Regions from separate parts of the Homo sapiens genome. Here all the other regions are reported to be linked to region 4. The links are microRNA targets in miRTarBase. Many come from high-throughput screens and were not tested one by one. Region 4 holds a microRNA gene; each other region holds the end of a gene's coding sequence.

Region 1 (4,065 bases), not on the chromosome of region 4:
TAGCTCAACAGCCATACTTTTAATTAATTCATTTATTTTTTGAGATGGAGTCTCGCTCTGTCGCCCAGGCTGGAGTGCAGTGGCGCATTTTCAGCTCACTGCAACCTCCACCTCCCAGGTTCAATTCTCCTGCCTCAGCCTCCCAAGTCACTGGGACTACCAGCGCCCACCAGCACGCCCAGCTAATTTTTTTGTTATTTTTAGTAGAGATGGGGTTTCACCATGTTGGCTGGGCTGGTCTCAAACTCCTGACCTTAGGTGATCCACTACCCGCCTCAGCTTCCCAAAGTGCTGGGATTACAGGTGTGAACCACCATGCCCGGCAACAGTTGCACTTTTTTTTTTTTTGAGACGGAGTCTTGCTCTATTTCCCAGGGTGGAGTGCAATAGCACAATCTTGGCTCAGGGCAACCTCCGCCTCCTGGGTTCAAGAGATTCTCCTGCCTCAGCCTCCTGAGTAGTTGAGACTACAGGCACGGGCCACCACGCTTAATTTTGTATTTTTAGTGGAGACAGGGTTTCATCATGTTGGTCAGGCTGAGCCACTGCGCCCGGCCCAGTTGTAGTTTTTAAATGGTACATTTCATTTGGATAAGTAGCTTTGTATTTTAAAAACCACTTAATGGCCAGGTGCAGTGGCTCACGCCTGTAATCCCAGCACCTTGGGAGGCCGAGGTGGGTGGATCACGAGGTCAGGAGATTGAGACCATCCTGGCCAACATGGTGAAACCCTGTCTCTACTAAAAATACAAAAATTTACTAGACATGGTGGCATGCATCTGTAGTCCAGCTACTCGGGAGGCTGAGGCAGGAGAATAGCTTGAACCCAGGAGGCGGAGGTTGCGGTGAGCCGAGATTGCACCACTGCACTCCAGCCTGGCGACAGGGCAAGACTCCGTCTCAAAAAAAAAAAAAAAAAAAAGCCAGACACCGTGGCTCACGCTTGTAGTCCCAGCACTTTGGGAGACTGAGGCGGGCGGATCACGAGGTGAGGAGATCGAGACCATCCTGGCCAACATGGTGAAACCCCCATCTCTACTAAAAACACAAAAAAATTAGCTGGGCATGGTGGCACGTGACTGTAATCCCAGCTACTCAGGAGGCTGAGGCAGGAGAATCGCTTGAATCTGGGAAGCAGAGGTTGCGGTGAGCCAAGTTCTCATCACTACATGTACTCCAGCCTGGCGACAGAGCAAGACTCCATCTAAAAAAAAAAAAAAAAAAAAACCACTTAATATGAAATAACTTCCATTAACTGATCATGAAATTTTGCCCTCTTTCAGATTAAGATGAAGGACACTTCAGTCACATGTTTACTGTGGCAATATAACTAGTCTGGATAATTTTATTAAATCATAGAATATACAGTCAGGAAACACTACAGCTATATTTAGCTGTTAGTTATCTCAATAAGCTACTTAATTTACTGGCAGACCAAAACAGGCATACTAAGCATTTTTATCAATTAAAAAAAGTCTTCAGTTGTTCAAGTTTCACATATACTCATAAAATTTTTAACTCGGGGGCACAGTTAACATAATTTATTGAGTGTTCTCCCTATAAAATATAAATTAACTTTTCCAAAAACATTCCTCAAAGATACTATAAACAAAAGAAATAAGGGTATATTTTATAACAGAAGAGTGTAATAGATGACCATTATGGTAAAACTAAGGTGCCATAAAAAATTTGGCCCAGCTATGAATTTCAGACCCTATGAATTTTTATGTTGAATACATTTGGCTATATTGCTAAGTGGGAAAAGGAGGAAAGTAATACCAAAATTATTGTGACCACCAATTTATAAAATCATTATTTTAAAGCTAATCGTAAAACTTCAAATGTTTAGAAAACAGTAATTTGTGGGTACTAATCGCATCTTACTATGTAACTGTAAAAGGCTATTTTCTCTTTGGTGCCCAGGCCAGCATTTTGAATACATTGCCAAAACATTTGCACTCCCTAGCTCTGACAATTCAAATACATAGGATTTTATCTATTTTACATTCCTGTTTGATAGAAATTTGAGGCAAATTTTACCCACACAGCCTGAAAAATACCTTGAAAGCAAACCTCGGTCTTCTGCATCTTCCAATTGATTCCTTTACAAACTCTGCACACATACAACTTAAGCCTCTGCTCAGGCTTATTATACCATGCACACTGCCCACAAGGAAAAAAATTAATTGAAAATAAAAGCCACAACTCTGTGTACTATTTAAACTGAATATCCAATTATAAATTGGTACATTGAAGTGTCTAAATAAGATGTTTTTAGCAATCTTGTTAAAAAAATTCTTGGGCAAAATATATCTTAATTTTTAAAAACACCCCAAGATTTTTAAAAAACACTTGTACTATACAACTTATAGTAACCTTGAAATTGGTTTACAAGGTTTTAATCAAGGTATTTACATACCAAGTAATGTAAAGCAAAAAAAAAAAAAAAAAAAAACAAAAACAAAAAACTAATTCCCAATGACATTTTAGAACATACTAATGCATCAAAGATTGTATGAAATTAAAATTAAGGCTTTTTCTGCACAATTTGTGTAATTTTAATTTTACATAGTAGCCAACCTTGGAAATGTCAGTCTTAACATTCTGATCAATCCACTGCATTCAATGCAGCGGAGTGTGTTAAGTGTTACTTCAAATAATTACATTGCTGCTACTTCTATGTTGAAGCATGCTTTTTAAACACTGTAGTTATTGAATATTTACAATATGTATCATTTAAACTTCATGTAAAAGCACAAGTATGACTGTCTGACTTCAATACAAACACCATACTTGGATTTCCCCCCAAAATGAAATGTAAAATACTACAATTTTAATAATCGACACTTTTGGAAGTTTTAAAAATATGTCTTAACGTGGACCACCAACATTTGCTCAAGTAACTCAAACAATGCTGTTCCTTTTTTAGGGTGCAAAACTTCAGTCTGGCTTCAGTTTCTTTAGGCATAGAGAAAGAAAATATTTCCTCCAAAGCGACTCCAAAATCACGCATTTCTTCTGAATATCACACTTTTTCTCTGCTGACTTCAAATGTGGTCCACCTCAGGGAAGGGGAGGGGAGTATCAGGATTCAGGATGAACTTATATGTGATTCCCAGGTTTTCACGATCCTCCCTTTTTTGCTCTTTTAAAAACACAGTGAGTTAAAATACTGAACAGCAAGATAAAAATGGAATAGTATCTAAGAATCAAAATGTATTAGCCATTTTTCCTATTATATCAAAATTTGTAGTCAGAATTGTCTTTATTGACTTTATTTTAGTTTTTGTACATAAAGAAAAATCATGTTCATATCCATCATGAACAAAAACTTAAAAAGGCAGAACTAGAAGACACGTGTCCTTCACCAAAGCAAATCTGTGCTAAAGGTTCCAAACATTTCAATTTTTAAAATAAATATTTTCATTTTCCGATGTCTACTTTCATGTCTTCAGAGTGTCACAGGAAATCGAAGCCTATCATGAATTACAATTTTTTTTTAGAGTCCCGGCTCACTGTGTTTGGTAACTTGCCATACCATATCCGGCTTGGTTAGGAGGAGGTATTACAGGGGGAGGAGCTTGTCCTTGGGGAGGCTGAGCACCAAATCCACCCATCCAAGCAGCAGAAGGTGATTGACTTGGAAGAAAAAGAAAAAATCTTCAGCAAACACAAGAAAAAAAAAATCACATATGTATTTACACAAAAATCAAGCAGAGCCTAATCACAGAATAGAAAACCAGAAATCAACACACCTACAACAAATAGAAAGATCAAAGAAATAAATGATATATGTGTAGAATACATATTCCAGTATTAGTCTTTGATATTTTTAAGATAACCACAACTTAACACACTGATGTCTGAGGAGTATCTGCAAACTAATTTTTTAAAAATTGTGAATGATTCAACACATCATCTATTACATAAGAAATTTTAAAAACAAGTTCATGTTGGAAACAGTCTCAAAGGAAGAAATCTGAAAATAAAGCTATGGGCTGGCCCTGGGCAGGGGAATTACAAAGGAGGAAACCACTCTATCAACAAAAGAAAAAAAAAAAAAAA
Region 2 (4,065 bases), not on the chromosome of region 4:
TTACCAGTTTCATTAATTACTAAGTGCTGTACACACAATATTTCATTGAATATGAGGCAGGTATATCAGCCCCATTTTAAAGGATTAGAATCCAAGTTACTGCAAAATCCAAGCTCTTAACCACTACACTACGTTACACAATAAAAATAACAGAACAAAAAAGCCATAACCATTGCTATCTTCACGAAATCACGTACTTAAGAGAACCGGTAGATCAAAGGACTCCAAACAATGTTCTGAGCTCTGGTAATAAAAATGACTTTTAAAAAGTTATTATATAAGTGCTTACGATTCAGTTAACTTTAACTCTTTAAACTTTATGGGTTTCCCCCCACCGTGATTTTAAAAATAACAGATTGCTCACTGAAAAGAAAAAAAAAACAGCAAAGTAGAATTAAAATAAAAACATCCATAATTCCTTCATTCACAAGAACTATTGACATTTTCCCTCTGCATATATTCTTATGTAACTGTTAACTATAGAATTTAAGTAGATTTTGATGATTGTGGTTAAACGTGATGCCAAATCTAACTATCGTATTTTTAACTGGTAGACATAAATTAATAGTAAACTTTGTGCAGGCAGAAAACTATTACATTATAGAGATATGTATTTTTAATAACTTCCTAAATTTTCCAACTACAGAAAAACAAGCAAAGAGTAACTTATCTCAGTTATACAAGCTCAAAAGTATATTGGCCATAAAAGAATCATGAATAATTCTTAATCTTTGTGTATACACACACCTATATAAATATACACATAGTAAATTTTTTTTTCTGGCTGTTAGGATTTATAACTTTCTGAAGGTTTGATAATATTATAACTAAATATTATTAGAACAGTTAAGAAAAAAATTATTTTTCATAGTCATTGAATTTTGCTAAAGTTACACTTATGGGTGATTAAACTACAAAGTTTTCTCTTGTTAAATATTTGCTTAAGACAGAATGTTCAAGATAAGCTAAACTCTTTACAAGAATCATATCAAGAAATTCTACCATTTGTGAAATAATAAAGAGGAGAGGAAAAAAATAGCGACAAACCAGCAGAATAATTTAGGGCAAAGATTCCAGGTATTATATAAAATGTGTGTAATACCACATTACTGGCATTTCAAGTGAGGTGACTTACACTAAAATCTTGTTCTTTTTAAACTATCACTGGACATAATAATTTATCCAACAAGAAAAGCAAAAGATAAAAAATATGCATTAGTCCTTATAGAATATGGATCAACAAGTTTTAAAAATAAACTTTCTAGTGCTTCCTCTTATGTGAGAGGTTTATCCTCGTCATAAATTCTAGGAACCTATCTATATTGCTTAAGTGTGATTTTATTCAAAATCATATTAGTCTACTATAAATAATACTTTTAATGTAAAAAACAATGCAGACTGGCAGTGGGTAAGAATAAGAATGTTCAATAAAACTGTATTTTGAAAGTCAAGAAAAGTATAAGCTAAGGCTAACCTAAAACTGTCTAGACAAATGAAGGGGAATAGAGTCTAAAAAATGCCTTTGCATTTTCACTGTACATGAACATGTATAACAAACACTGTGTTTGTATATTATATTGAAAAATAAACTCAGATATTTCTAAATTAGTAAATTAAAATTGTATATACTTCATTTAGAGTGTGAAATTGTTTAAGTCCTTAAACAGAAAATGATTGGGCCAAAATATTCTCATCCTGTCCATCTAGAAATGAGAAACATAATAAGTCAAATGAGATTAAAAATTAACTAAGGCCAGTAGGGCAAGGTGGCTCACACCTGTAATCCCAGCACTTTGGGAGACAGAGGCAGGCGGATCACCTGAGGCCAGGAGTTTGGGACCAGCCTGACTGACATGGTGAAACCCTGTCTCTACTAAAAACACAAAAAAATTAGCTGGGCATGGTGGTGTACGCCTGTAATCCCAGCTACTTGGGAGGCTGAGGCAGGAAAATCTCTTGAACCCAGGAGGTAGAGGTTGCAGTGAGCCAAGATCGCGCCACTGCCCTCCCAGCCTGGGCTACAGAGCCAGACTACGTCTCAAAAATAAAATAAAATAACTAAGGCCTATTCTCATAAAAGAGAGTATGTTATACACCCTTTTATTACAGAACATTTCATTTTTTTGATTGCTTGTGGAGAGAAAAGGTTTATGAGGTAATTACATATAATTTTAAACAGGATTCCTTTTAATTTTATATCTATATTTCTCTTTAAAAGTAGCTTCAGTAGATGACTAATTAAATCAATGTCATGATTTATACATCCTTACTTCAGAGATTCAGCTAACCTTATGAATAAAACAAACTAATACTACATTTCAAACAAAATTAAAAATAGACAATGATGTTTAAAAAAGATTACACTTCAAATTTAGCACTGTTTTTACAGGGAAGGGAAGCATATTATGCCATATTGTCTATAAATATTTACTGAATAAATAAACATGGTTCACCTGATGTTTTTAAACCCTTGTAAGCTGATTAAATCACAAACATGTTGAATAGGTCTTAAGGAAAACAAGATTAGGCTTTTAAGTAGTTATAAATTATGACAATAGAAAAAAAACCTTTCCAATATCTTTTTTTAGGGATAAAAAACAACAAAAATTAAAAAATAGTATCATTAAATCACTGTTTCGGCCTTAATATTTTGAAGACTAATATATTAGGATATACTGTATCTATTAATAGCATGAAAGCACCTCACACTGAAAATTTCACTTTTAAGGCTTAAAAGTGATTTTTAAAAACATCACAATAAATGATCATAATTTAAATTCTGAATATGGGAACGAAAAAAACCTCAAAACCTAAACTCAACAAATCTGCATTTAATGCTTACAAGTGAAATGTACATTTCCAAAACAAGATATGTAACCATCAGATTTAGCTGTCACAATAAATTATTTATCACAGACACTAAGTAATGTGTCCTAAAGTCCCTTTTTCCTTGAAAGTCATAATATTTCTGGGGACTCATTCATTATCTGGTAATGTAGTCACTCAAAAACAGTTAAAGGAGTCAGTCCTTAGAGATTCTATGTCCAACTTTATCTGTACAAAGTTTTAAGGCATTCATAATGGTATGTTAAATAACAAATAATTTATAATAAAAATAGATCAAAACTCTCTTTTAAAAATATCTCAACTGAGAAAACCACAGAAGAGAATAAAGATCGTATTTACCACTGATGTACTCCTTAAGCTTCTACAGTGATGAAAAGACTTTTTTTTGGCTTACAACAGACTTTATGCCTTGAATACTTGGTGTTCTTATACAAATGTGGCCTGGAGCTTAAGTTCTGCCTAAAGTTACTGTGAAATTTACACATTCAAGTGTGCTGATTGCTATTAATAAAGGTAGAAAAAGTTAGTTAAAATATCTGGTATTATTATTATCAGTATTTATTGCAAATTATCTTATAGTATTCTCTACTGTAGTGTGAACTTCAGTCTTGTGCCAAATAGCAGCATAGATTACAATATCATGGTACCAATGATGATCAATGACTCAGCTAGTATCAGCCAAAGCAAAGGAATTTGTTTATAATAAAAGAAGTAAGTAAGGAGCATAGCTTTATTTTAATATCAGTTGTCTGAACTGAGCAATGGGCATCTTGGTATCCAGAGGCAGAACTGAAGTTTTCTTTCCTTAAATTACAGTGATAGTCAGGATGGGAGACAGTAGGTGGTGGCAATGGGTTGCTAGCTAGCTGGCTGGCTAAAATACATACCTGAGCTCTACTGGAGCTATGCAACCTTGCTGTGTATCCGTTATTTGTAAAGGCTGACTGAACAAAATTGCCTTCATCATACAAGCACTGCTGTCTGCACTACAGTAATAAAGAAACACACTGACAGATACAATGGCTTCAAGTGATAAGCAATCATCAGGAATTTGTAGTGAAATTGTTGGTTGACTGGAAATGTTCTCTATATCTCCAGCTGCTATCTGTCCTTGAAGTAGCCATTCATTGCCTAAAAATCAAAAATGAAATTATTAAGACTGTATAAGATAAGTAGAAAACTGGGAACATCTTATGAAGACTAGATAAACTCGATCGA
Region 3 (4,065 bases), not on the chromosome of region 4:
TTCCCCAAGCCCTAGACAGCAGTCTCAGGAAACTGCCTCCACCAACTGTTCGCCAGAACTAGGGGGTCTGACTTTTCACTTTGCTCCCTCTAGAGCCACAGAATGGCAGAGAAACAAACAGCCTGGGTAAGCTCTCAGAATGAATCATCACTGCAACTCATCAGAGCTGCTGAAACATGCTACCTGTTTTGTTTTTCTTTTGTAGTTCCTACCCAAGACAGATCAATTGGAATGGAAAACTCTGAGTGCTACCAGAGGTAAAACTGGGTGAAGAAGGCAAGAGAAGACTTTCAGCCTCTTGATCACCAGCACGACCATACTGTTTCAGAAAGCTGGGTGGTGGTGGAGGCGCTCTCTCAATGGCTATTCAAGTCTTCTCCACTAAAACTTGGTTGGGTAGAGGAAATTAAATTGAGTCCTGGTACCTGGTCAAAATCATTAGAAGTTTACCTGGCTTCTCAAGTTATCTTCTTCCCTGGTTCAGACTGTTGGTAAGAGCTGTCCAGATACCCAGATGGGAAGGAAGGAGACAGCCGCGCGCTTCACTCCATTTGTCACCTCATGCATGGACCATACTCTGGGTTTGAGATCATTCTTCATTGAAGTTTGTAAAAATAGGTTGAAATTGTAAAGCTCCATGATCATTGCTATATGTAGATATATTTCAATTTAAGCAAAACAAGCTGCAAGTTATTCCCTGGCATGCTCAAAGGATTTTCGTGCTTTTCACTTAATAGTCCAAAGTCTCTTAAATTCCTGCTGCAGACATCAATAGCTTATCTATATTCTCAAACACCAAAAGGAAAAGTTGAATCTTGCTCTCTTTGGTATACTAATGTAGTGGTATGCTAAGCTGGCTCATACCAACTTAGAAAAGCTGATTGTAAAATTTTCATTTTGACAGCTGGTTATTAAATGCAGCCATTATTAAAAATCAAATCATACAAACTTATAATTAAATCAATTACATTTAAAACAAAGGTAATAAATATTCAAAGCATATCACTTCCTAATTTGATCTTGATGCTCTTGAGGTAATTTACGTCCATGGTACCTGTGTGGTGGAATTACTATATATGATGGTGTGCTACTGTGCACCTTGTCTCAACTCCACTCTTCGTGATAGCATGTTGGTAGCTTGAAATCAGCCTGGTGGGAGTATTACCATGGACACTGGCAAAAGCTACAGATCCCGGAGAGCCAGTGGTTAAACATTTACCAGCATACCACTGCTAGTAATCAAGGCTAACTGGTCCAGAAATCGCCCAGGAGAATGAAATGGATGTTCCATTTTTTTCTACTGACATTGACTAGCATATAAAAGGTATAGAAACAGCACTAAGACTTTCTGAAAATACCTAATGAAAATTTTACATCTTTTTTTGTTTTTGTTTTTGTTTTTGAGACAGAGTCTCACTCTGTTGCCAGGCTGGAATGCAGTGGCGTCATCTCGGCTCACTGCAACCTCCGCCTCCCAGTTTCAAGCGATTCTCCTGCCTCAGCCTCCCAAGTAGCTGTGACTACAGGCGCATGCCATCACGCACAGCTAATTTTTTGTATTTTTAGTAGAGACGGGATTTCACCGTGTTAGCCAGGATGGTCTTGATCTCCTGACCTCATGATCTGCCCGTCTCGGCCTCCCAAAGTGCTGGGATTACAGGCGTGAGCCACTGCACCCAGCCAAAAATTTTACATCTTTTATAGAGGGAAAAAAACTCTTTATACCATGGCAAGGCCTTTTCTTTCACAAAAAGCTGGGCCTACTGAACAATTCAAGCTGTGCAGTAGTAGACTGAAAGCAGGATTTGTTGAGGAGTTACAGCTCCTGTCCAGAGCAAATCCTGTAGTGATACAAGGAGAATGTAAACTTGCCAGCTTAGACAGGGATCAGTCCTGAGACTGCTGGCAGTAGCAAATGGCTATTAGAGTAACTGTATAATGGTTTTGCCTGCACTTTCTCTATGTATATACAAATGTACATGTATAAATATAAAAATTAAGTGATCATGGTTCTTGGTAACCTGTCCCAAGTGCTGTGATTCACACGCCTGACACTAAAAGGTTCTTCCTGGTCCAGTCAGCCAGCTGTGACCACCAGCAGCACAGCTGAGTGCTGAGAATCTGGCTGGAAAGAGAAACGTGGCTCAAGTGCTGGCTCACCTTCTAGCTGTGTGGCCCTGGGCAGGTTACTGAGGCTCTTCCAACCTCACTTTTCACATGTAAAATGGCATTTCTAAAAGTACCTACCCTACCTCAAAGGAATTCTGAAAAAAGTAAGTGAATTTGTATAAAGCAAAGCACTCACAATATGCCTGACACACAAACTGCTTAATAAATGTTAGTAATTTTTAAAACCTCCTCATAAGCGGCTTAGAAATTATTCATGTTTGGTACATATTTATTGCAAGTCAAGCAGATCCAACTTTTTTGAAAGCTGGTGGTCTAGGAGTATAGTTTTAATTATATTTGTAAATACTCAAAAGTATTAGATGCCAGTCTAATTTAAATGCAGTCTGACTGTAGCGAGTAACTGACCTGGGCAATGAAAAAGCAGTTGTATTTTTCTTGTGGTTTTTCAAGAAAATATCCTTTTTATACAGATTTAGAAAGAAGAATCAATGGCTATATCGAAGTTGATTGTGACTAATTTGTTAATACAGAAAACAACATTAACACAAATCTAAGAGTACCTTTCCTAAAATAAAATATTTAAACTTATTAAGTGTGTTATCCATTATGAAGAACAATTGATCCTCTTGCATACACTCAGAAACAAATGGTCTGATGTTCCCCAGAGGCAGGTCTCTCTCATACTAATAAGTTAATGTGGCTTATATTTTAGAAGAAAGAAAACTGTCTCACAAGGGAAACTCTGAATTTTTTTAAAAAAAGATAAATAAATAAATAAATAAATAACCTCTCATAGCAGGGCTAAGTGCCACTATTCCCTATTACATAAAATCAGAATAAGGAATAAGGAAAAGGCAGGTCGATTCTTACACCACACGCTTCTCAGTTACACAAGTAGGACTTTCTTCCTCATCTTCCTTTCAGGAATTTGGACATTTCAGAATCCTGTGGAATCACCCTGTTCCCAGATTTTCCTCTGCTACTTGTATATGGAAATCTAACCCATCAGGCACATCGGATTCACTAAAAGAAGACACAGTGACATAGAGTTCTTTTAGAGTGAATTTCGTTTATTCAGTCAAAAAGGATTTGTTAAGCACCTGCTATGTTCAAGGCACTAATCTAGGTACAGACATACAGTGGTGACTGAGACAGAAGTCCCTGCCTCACAAGGATTATACCGCAGGTGAAGACATACAGACAGCAAACAAATACTACACGTAACATGCCACAGGGTGAGGGGTAATGTAGCACCATAGAGAAACATACATACAGGGAATATGGAATAGGATATGGGAATGCCACAGGGTGAGGGGTAATGTAGCACCATAAAGAAACATACAGGGAGTATGGAATGGGAATAGGGAATGTCAAGAGATGCTCTAGGGCCAGGCACAGTGGCTCACACCTGTAATCCCAACACTTTGGGAGGCTGAGGCAGGCGGATCACCTGAGATCAGGAGTTCAAGACCAGCCTGGCCAACATGGCAAAATCCTGTCTCTACTAAAAATACAAAATTTAGCTGGGCCTGGTGGTGCACACCTGTAATCTGTAATCCCAGCTACTGGGGAGGCTGAGGTGGGAGAATTGCTTGAACCTGGGAGGTGGAGGTTACAGTAAGCTGAGATTGTGCCACTGCACTCCAGCCTGGGTGACAGGGTGAGGCTCTGTCTCAAAAAAAAAAAAAAAAAAAAAAAAGATGCTCTGGAAGGCGTTTCTAAGGAGGTCCTATTTGTGTAGAAAACTAAATGATACGTGGGACCAAGCTATCCAAGTACGTGAAAACATCCCATCAGGCAGGGGGCACAGCAAGTACAAGAGCCTTAGGCTGGAATATGCTTATGGTATTGGAGGAACAGCAAGTAGGCTGGTGTGGCTCAACTGCAGTGAGGAAGAGTCAAACGGAACAAGTGGGAGTGGTTGCTAGAGGCCAG
Region 4 (4,000 bases):
CAGCCTCCAGGCTGCTGAACCACATTGTCCAGCATTTATTAACTTCAGTGTATACAATTCAGCAGATCTGTTTCCCAAGTATAGCAGAGAAAGTATAGAGGAGCAATGTAATGGAAATGCACACATCAAAGTGGCTTTTAGCAAATGTGAAGCTCTTGTTACCTGCAGTGAATAAAATCTGGCACAGGGTTATGTTGGCTGAAGGAGGCCGCATCAAGGTTCATGCAGATCTCGACATTGTCACCTGCCATGATTCGCACTGCAGCCTTGTTCTCATCCTCAAAAATCTGCCGTTGTAAGGAGGCACACAGAAGCAGCATGAAGTCATCTAACAAGACAGAGGTGAGATCATTAAGCCGCCTCATCCTCTTCTGATTTACATAATGCAACACACAGTCATCACACAGCAACAGCCATTCCCCAGCTCCTAAGTGAGTTGTGTTCCCAAAGTTCATAGTAAAATTCATCCTGGAGTCCAATGTCGGGGCCAAGTCACACCTTCTCCACCTTGCAGGGCATAGAGTGACCACAGACACTCCAGGAGCTTACGTGGGGAGTCTCTGAATTTTGTTTGCACATCGGTGAGAGAAATATTAGGTGCTACTTACTAGTCTTCATGAGTCTCTTAGAGGGTAACATTTTTGTGTGTGTGTGTGTGAGACAGAGTCTCGCTCTGTCGCCCAGGCTGGAGTGCAGTGGTGCGATCTTGGCTCACTGCAAGCCCCACCTCCTGGGTTCACACCATTCTCCTGCCTCAGCCTCCCAAGTAGCTGGGAATACAAGTGCCCGCCACCATGCCTGGCTAATTTTTTTTACCTCCCACCAGTTTTAAGGAGGCCACTTGAGCAATTTCCCCATCTTTATCTTTTTATGTGTGGTGGATGCAGACATTCATTTTTCTTTATCCTTTCCATCCTCCTTTGCATTTGTAACCAAAGACTGTCCCCAAAGCAGAAGCCACACTGCAAGTGTGGTGAGAGCAGGTGGAGGTGGTGGACTGTGCTGGACAGCACAGCGCAGCCTGAGAGAGCTGTCCTCCCAGCAACTGCCCACAAAGGGCTGAGGCCAAGCCTGCCTGGAAGCCTGAACACAAGCTGCTTCCTTGCTTTTAAAATTAAACCTAAACTTGTTTAGGCAGGGCAGTCATTTGCATTTTCTGTAAAACCCAGCACTCTGGTCTTGGAGGAGCTGCTCTGACCTTTGGATCACCAGCTGCCATGGGAAGGCCTTGGGGCTGCAGCCCAATTCTAGAGCAACTAAAATCTGGGAAGCATCTCCCAGCATCCACTGTCCCATGTTCAGGGTTTATTTATCTGCACTGGGAGCCAGAAACCACCAAGTCAGAAAACACAAAAGCCTTCCTCTCTGGTCTGTCTTTTGAAAGGTGGCTGTGTAAATGTGTGTGTGTGTGTGTGTGTGTGTTTGTGTGTGTGTGTTGGGGGAAGTGAAATTATGCAAGTGAATATGGCATTTCCAACACTGATTTATTAATTTTGCAAATGTAATAGGGTGAGTAGAAGCCATTAATGACTTGTGATATTAATGCATAAGACAAGCCTTTACATGATTACGAAGTCTAGTGGAAGACAAAAGGCACTAATGCATAGCACGTGAACAATGATTAACAGTAAACCCGGATACCAGCACTCTGTGGCCCTGCAGTGGAAACACTTACAGACGAGAAACACAGGGTTGGGCCGCACAATGAAATCTGGGAAGTACAGCCACTTTATGATGTTGTCATTGAAGCTGGCACCCTTGAATCTCCACGGGTAATCTGCAGGGAGGGAAGTGGCGAACAGCACAATCAATACTCTTCTTCACCACTCTTCTCCCAGCCGTCCGCTCAGTAATGGCTTCTTCTAAAAGTAGACGGCTCAAGGGAAGGGCAGGCTCACCTCGGCAAGGAGCAGGTGGGATGCCAATGCAGATGAAATACTGGAAGGTGATGATGCATGCCAGGAAGCAGCAGTACTTGGGCCAGATCTCTGCGATGGCTTTCCTTCTGCGTCTATATAAGACAGCGATCAGCCAGCAGGCGTGGATCATGGCATAGAAATCCATTCGCTGGCCAATGACGTTAACTGACATTAGGAAACAGGTCTGTGTAAAGATGAAAAGAGGCAAAAAAAAAAAATCAGGCATATGGGAAAGGGGACTGGTGATAGGTGTCAGGTCTGTGTAGATGGCGGAGACCCATGTCCCTCAGGGCAAGTCTGTCTGCACAGATTCACAAATGCTTGCTCTTTTGAGTGTCTCAGCGTGAAGACAGAAATACTGTACAGATTACTCCCAGGGAAAAACTGACTAAGTAGCTGTTATCATAACCACTTCAGACAATAAAGAGAACAGCCATTTTGATCTCCTCATGAAACATCACCATTCCTACTTCATTCTATGAAGGCACAGGCACTATCACAATCGTTTTAGGTTAAAACAGTTCATTTTGGCTGCAGCTTATGGTTTCAGAATGCACAAAAAGAAAGAAGATTAATACTTTATTATTTATTTATTTTGAGATGGAATCTTGCCCTGTCACCCAGGCTAGAGTGCAGTGGTGCAAACTTGGCTCACTGCAACCTCTGCCTCCTGGGTTCAGGCAATTCTCCTGCCTCAGCCTCTCAAGTAGCTGTGATTACAGGCGTGCACCACCACGCCTGGATAATTTTTGTATTTTTAGAAGAGATGGGGTTCCACCATGTTGCCCAGGCTGGTCTCAAAGTCCTGACCTCAGAAGATCTGCCTGCCTTGGCCTCCCAAAGTGCTGGGATTACAGGCGTGAGCCACCGTGCCCAGGCAGAAGATTAATACTTTATTCTTAATAAGAAACCTGTTAACACGGCAACTGATGGCCATGCATTTAGATGGCTCTGGAGATCCAGAGAGGCCAAGGCACTGCTGTGGAGGGGGGTGTTCAGCACCCAAACTTGGAAAACTTTCAGTCAAGCCAGTTAACCATCAGTACAAATACTTTCTGTTCTTCTCAAGGGGACAGCTATCATGCCTGCAGATGTATCACAAAGTTCCAGTGGCCAATTGGCCAGAAGCAGTTCTTTGAATTTTCATGGAAAAGAGAAATAAAACATATCAGCAAGGAAACTCACCTCCAGACCAAACTTGTAAAAGAAGTAATTAATGAAATATTTGGCACAATTAATAAGTCCATCATCTAGATGTAGTCTTGTAATGTCATGAAAGATAGTTCTAGACACAGGGGCCGTCAGGTTATTTCGACCTCGATAGTATTCCTGATGGCGGTAAATGGTGACTTCAAAGGCCAGGATAGCCAGCATCAGGAGGTTATTCTACAAAGCAAGGAAACACAAATGTGTCAGCCAGAGGCTTTATGATTTGGTAATTTCAAGCAATCCCCACATTCTGCACAGCTACAAGGACAATGTTTTATAAAAGCTCACCTCTCTTAAGCAGTTTTGAGCTCAATATTCGTTTTCTCTGTCTTATTTATTGTGGCATTATCTATATTAGAAAATCAGGCTAACTTCCAAAGTCATAGGATCTAGAATCTCCAAACATAAGATGCTGCTGCTCATTCCTACTTCTCACAACTACACATCTCACACCAAGGAAGCAATTTCCAGTTATCCAAGGAGGGCAGTTCAGCCTTGTTTGCAGCCAGAAGTGCAAAAACAGTACAGAGACATCCTGGGACGCACTGAGCTAAATGAACGGGAAGCTGCTTAGGGGGAAGCTTTTGAACACTCCTGAAATCTGGCTACAGACAGCAATAGATTGAAAAGCATGCTGACAACAGTAAAATAATAATAGTGATGATATAACTATTATTCAAGATAATGAAAATAGTTAACATTTATGGAACCATAGGTTCCAGACACAATTCGATCACCCTTTTCAAATACCAATTTGCTTTATCCTCATAACAGCTATTTATGGTGGGTACTGGTACAAAAGATATCTACCATGTGATGAAAAATCTAGAAGGTCCACAAAGAAAATGGGCTGCTTAATACATTTAAAAATC
Region 5 (4,065 bases), not on the chromosome of region 4:
TCACCTGTGAATTCCTCCATCAAACCTTTTTCAAAGGCAAAGGTGACCTTCAGGACATGTCATGCTGTCTCCACAAAGGAGAAAAGAAAAGGTAGTAAAAGATAAAAACAGTTCTTAATGCAGAAAGGTCACCTACTAAAAGAAAATGAACATAAAAAGATAAAAGCAAACTACCATCATTTTGATGCCTCCCAAAGAGAAAAATCTTTAGTTATCTTCAACATAAACTGCCAAGGAGCACAGGTACGGTCCAGACATCACGGTAAATATGCATAAAATATTGTCTAGCTGGATAATAAACACCAGCAGTAGGAAAAAGGAGGGGATGAAAATGTCTCACACCCAGTAACTTTTAGGAACATAGCAAAATTAGCAGGCCACTGTCAACTCTAAAATGGGAACAGCAGGCGCCTCTGAGGGAGATAGGAAGTAGCTAAATGATGGAAAATATTAAACAAGATAGCTTAGAAGATTCATATTTATTCCAAATGGGAGGCTGAATCTCTCAGATGTCGATTTTGACACATTGGCACTATTTTTGTTTCTGATTTATTGCCTTGGCCGTAAGTTCAAAGGCAACAATAAAGTGTACTTTCATTAATACCACCATGGACTTTCGAGTATTAATATGACAAGAAAAGACAACTATTCATTTTTTTTAAGGGGACTGGACACACAAACTTCAGGAGGGAAGAATCCCCTCTCCCATTAGAATCCCTCTATCTTGATAAAATGGTTGCTTTATTGGTCAGATTTTGGACTTGGATCGTCTGTTATAATATTAATAGTACACAGCATGTAAGATTTTCTGCATTCATTTGAAATTCCTAATACCAACCATCTTTTAATTTATAAAAAAAGAGGGAAACTTACAATAAAACAAAAAATACTACCCTCACAGATGATTAATAGCATGCAATCTATGAAATATTACATACATTAAAAGTCTCCAATTACTGTGTGCCTGACCCATCACACAGTATCCTTCCAAGACAATCTATAGAATTCAAAACTGTACAAAAATTATAAAATATGCAGAAAACCCAAAAGGTACTGTTTGTAAAACAAAGATCACACACACATTAGTACTAAATAGGGAAAAAAAATCAGCAGACCCATGGACTACCCCTGCTCCCAACCACAGGTCTTCAGTATAAAGGACTTCACCAGTGTCTTCTGCACTGCCCCCATCCCGTAGGGGTCCAAAAGACCAGCTGCATTCCTGCTGACCGCCACTAACTCTGTTTTCTGCATAGTTGTCTTCCCTGCTTCTGTAGTGGTGAGCTGTGGGAACTTTTTTTTTTTTTTTTTGATGGAGTCTCGCTCTGTCACCAGGCTGGAGTGCAGTGGCACAATCTCGGCTCACTGCAACCTCTGCCTCCCAGGTTCCAGTGATTCTCCTGCCTCAGCCTCCCAAGTAGCTGGGACTACAGGTGTGCGCCACCACGCCCAGCTAATTTTTGTGTTTTTAGTAGAGATGGGGTTTCACCATGTTGGCCAGGATGGTCTCAATTTATTGACCTCATGATCCACCCACCTCGGCCTCCGAAAGTGCTGGGATTACAGGCATAAGCCACCACACCCAGCCTGTGGGAACTATTTATTGGATTTCAAAACACCCTCTGCCTCATTAATCCACTAAGCTTTCTCAGCAAAAAGCTGTTTAAATAAATAATGGGAACATCTAATTTAAAACAGTTTTTCTAATTATAGACCAGTACACGAAGAAGAGCTTAACTTATCCAAGTATAGTCTAGTTTGGGTCCATAATGGAGCTGAAGGCTCAGAGGACATTCAGGGCCATTACACTGCAGGAAAACAAGGAATAAGGGATGTAGAAATGACCTAAGAAAAGCACGAAGTGGAATGTATACTGGAGGCAAGTTAATGAAAGCTAATAAATACAAAGTGCTGGGAAAAATCTAAAAGCAAAATAGCTATTGTAACTTGCAATGCATTAAAAACAACTTTAAAACCAAAAAGTCTTGATAAGGAAACTCTATAGTGGGGTCTCAGTTAAATGCTGATGATTTTTAATGCTCAGATAACATTAAGTGGAATATTAACTTCTGCATCCGACACCATCTGAATTTTCTCACACACTACTACACTTGTTCACTTTTCAATCAAGTTCCACTTTCTGAACTTGTTCAAAACCTCATTTGAAATATATCCAGCTACTGCTTTTCCCCTTTCACCTAGCACAGGGCAGTTACCTGGCAAAGCTCTATTCTGGCCAAGTCACTGGGACTGAGTAGAACCCACGTTAGCAGCTCTGGACCTGAACAGGAGCTGGCCCAACATCACAGTGACCACCCACAAAGAGACAAGCCCTCCTGGATTTTTTTCAGCATTTCTTATACTGACTACAGTAGTGATGATTAAAGTTATCTGCCCTACAGACTCCACTGAATTTGAAGCTGTATTTATTGTACAGATGGGGGAAATGTGTTTTATTGTGTCAGTTATATTAATTTTTATCAATGTGATTAGATACATATTTTGGCCTATTAATCTTATTCATTATATTCTTAGTCTGAGATGGGTTTTAATTCTGACTAACAGCAGCTACTTAAGAGTCCAATCATACAAAATCAGGAGAGTATTACCCTTTCTACAGCTAAGCGAGTCAGTAATACAGCAGCAACTAATACTGGCCATTAATAACGTCCAGAGAGCACATTAGCAAACCTTGTACTCCCAGTGACTGTCAGGAGACTTGAAAATAACTACTATTCTCTTCCAAAGTAGAATAGCGTTTTTCTAGATAGTGAAGGAAATGATAGTCATAGTTGGTCTGAACTCCAAGATCCTACTCCTCAAAACAGCACCGAAGCAGGGGTTCGGGATGCCTGCTAAGAGCATTTCCACAGTTCAAGTCTCTTCAGAACCTTAGGGACCTTCGTGTCTAGCTTCACACACCCACCTCCACATATGAACCAGCCTACCACACTTCACATCTGGGTACACTGGCCATTAGCAACAATGCAGTCTCATGCAGCAGCACATTAAAATCAAACGGGTGGCAATCGTTCACCACCCTCAGAGTGTTGGGAGACTTTCACATTTCATCATCCTTATAATCCACAAACAGAAACATGAAGGGATGCAAGTGAGTTCAGCATTCACTCGTTTGGTGCACTCAAGTGCTGAGAGAATGCAGAATTTACAGTGTCACAGAGGAAAAAAGCCATCTGAAATAATTGTAAAAATGGTTAAGTGTGGTATTTAAATGTTGGTTCCCTCCTCTTCATACAAGTGGAAGAAAAGAAGGGGCTAGGGTACCCACTGGGCCATGAGGTTAACCCCTTAGCACAGGCAATGAAGAACATCCAATGCCACAGATTCTGCAGGAGGAGAAATCCCAAGGGTATACAGTATTCCTGAGAAAGATCCCAGATTTTTCTGAATCAGTCTTAATCTGATTTTGTTTTGGCTACACAGTTATGCTGTTATACCTTTGACATACATAAAAATGGTCATTTTATTTCAATCCAGACAGCTCAGCATTGTACAAATGATGGCAGAAAGATCCATTTGTTCAGACTCAGCTTGCTTTGTTTTTAATACTGGGGAATAAACCAAAAAAAAAAGTGTAATTTTTATCATTTGTATCCTTCATTCTACTTTACTGGAGTGGAATCCCCAGGGCCTTCAGATAATCTGGGAAGACCTGACTATTCCTGTGAGGCAAGCACAGCCCTGCTGAGCTTTACTCAGAATAATGCATGATAGACTCAACGTAATTCCCAGGAAAAAGCCCAGTCACTCCATTCATAACTCCCTCATACCAACCATCGTCATTCTTCTTGATGACATAAATAATGGCTCCTTCCTGAAAGGACAGCTCATCTTCCTTGTCTTTTGTATAGTCATAAATTGCCACAACTAGGAGGGAAGAAAACAAAACAGGATGTGAAAGACAGTAATATTCCTAGAAAGACAGAACCAAGCCAGTGAATAGCTATCTGTTCCCAAATCCTGTAGCACTCAAACATGGTGACTTTCTAAACACCAACCAAAACTTACATGTTTTTTTTTCTAAGTAATACCCAGTCATATACA

What was found. Region 4 holds the annotated microRNA hsa-miR-6788-5p (CUGGGAGAAGAGUGGUGAAGA, at 1,818-1,838, opposite strand). A microRNA usually pairs through its seed, bases 2 to 8, with sites in the 3' UTR of a target mRNA and lowers its output. Matches are read on the target gene's strand: a 7mer-m8 pairs with bases 2 to 8, a 7mer-A1 pairs with bases 2 to 7 and ends in A, and an 8mer does both.
Region 1: miRTarBase lists TIAL1 as a target of hsa-miR-6788-5p. The part of its 3' UTR that is shown has no 7-base or 8-base seed match.
Region 2: miRTarBase lists NHLRC2 as a target of hsa-miR-6788-5p. Seed matches in the 3' UTR shown: 7mer-m8 at 3,676-3,682, 7mer-A1 at 1,931-1,937 and 8mer at 1,794-1,801.
Region 3: the mRNA of SLC60A1 is a reported target of hsa-miR-6788-5p. Seed matches in the 3' UTR shown: 7mer-A1 at 1,504-1,510 and 7mer-A1 at 1,638-1,644.
Region 5: miRTarBase lists ABI2 as a target of hsa-miR-6788-5p. Seed matches in the 3' UTR shown: 8mer at 3,051-3,058.

What each region holds. Positions count from the first base shown.
Region 1 is chr10:119,572,153-119,576,217 of GRCh38, forward strand. TIAL1 (TIA1 cytotoxic granule associated RNA binding protein like 1) reads right to left here. Exons shown (of 12, transcript NM_003252.4): 12 at 1,313-3,639. The coding sequence ends at 3,513. Among named protein-coding and RNA genes, the nearest start is that of TIAL1, 23 kb to the right of the region's middle.
Region 2 is chr10:113,908,193-113,912,257 of GRCh38, reverse strand. NHLRC2 (NHL repeat containing 2) reads right to left here. Exons shown (of 11, transcript NM_198514.4): 11 at 1-3,978. The coding sequence ends at 3,722. Among named protein-coding and RNA genes, the nearest start is that of NHLRC2, 56 kb to the right of the region's middle.
Region 3 is chr1:205,600,201-205,604,265 of GRCh38, forward strand. SLC60A1 (solute carrier family 60 member 1) reads left to right here. Exons shown (of 10, transcript NM_181644.5): 10 at 206-2,718. The coding sequence ends at 261. Among named protein-coding and RNA genes, the nearest start is that of ELK4, 30 kb to the right of the region's middle. RefSeq lists an enhancer at 1-964.
Region 4 is chr18:10,757,807-10,761,806 of GRCh38, forward strand. MIR6788 (microRNA 6788) reads right to left here and starts at 1,843; the gene lies at 1,778-1,843. It overlaps PIEZO2 (piezo type mechanosensitive ion channel component 2), which reads right to left. Exons shown (of 56, transcript NM_001378183.1): 24 at 3,105-3,305; 25 at 1,899-2,103; 26 at 1,676-1,777; 27 at 163-328.
Region 5 is chr2:203,427,000-203,431,064 of GRCh38, reverse strand. ABI2 (abl interactor 2) reads right to left here. Exons shown (of 12, transcript NM_001375670.1): 12 at 1-3,888. The coding sequence ends at 3,713. Among named protein-coding and RNA genes, the nearest start is that of ABI2, 100 kb to the right of the region's middle.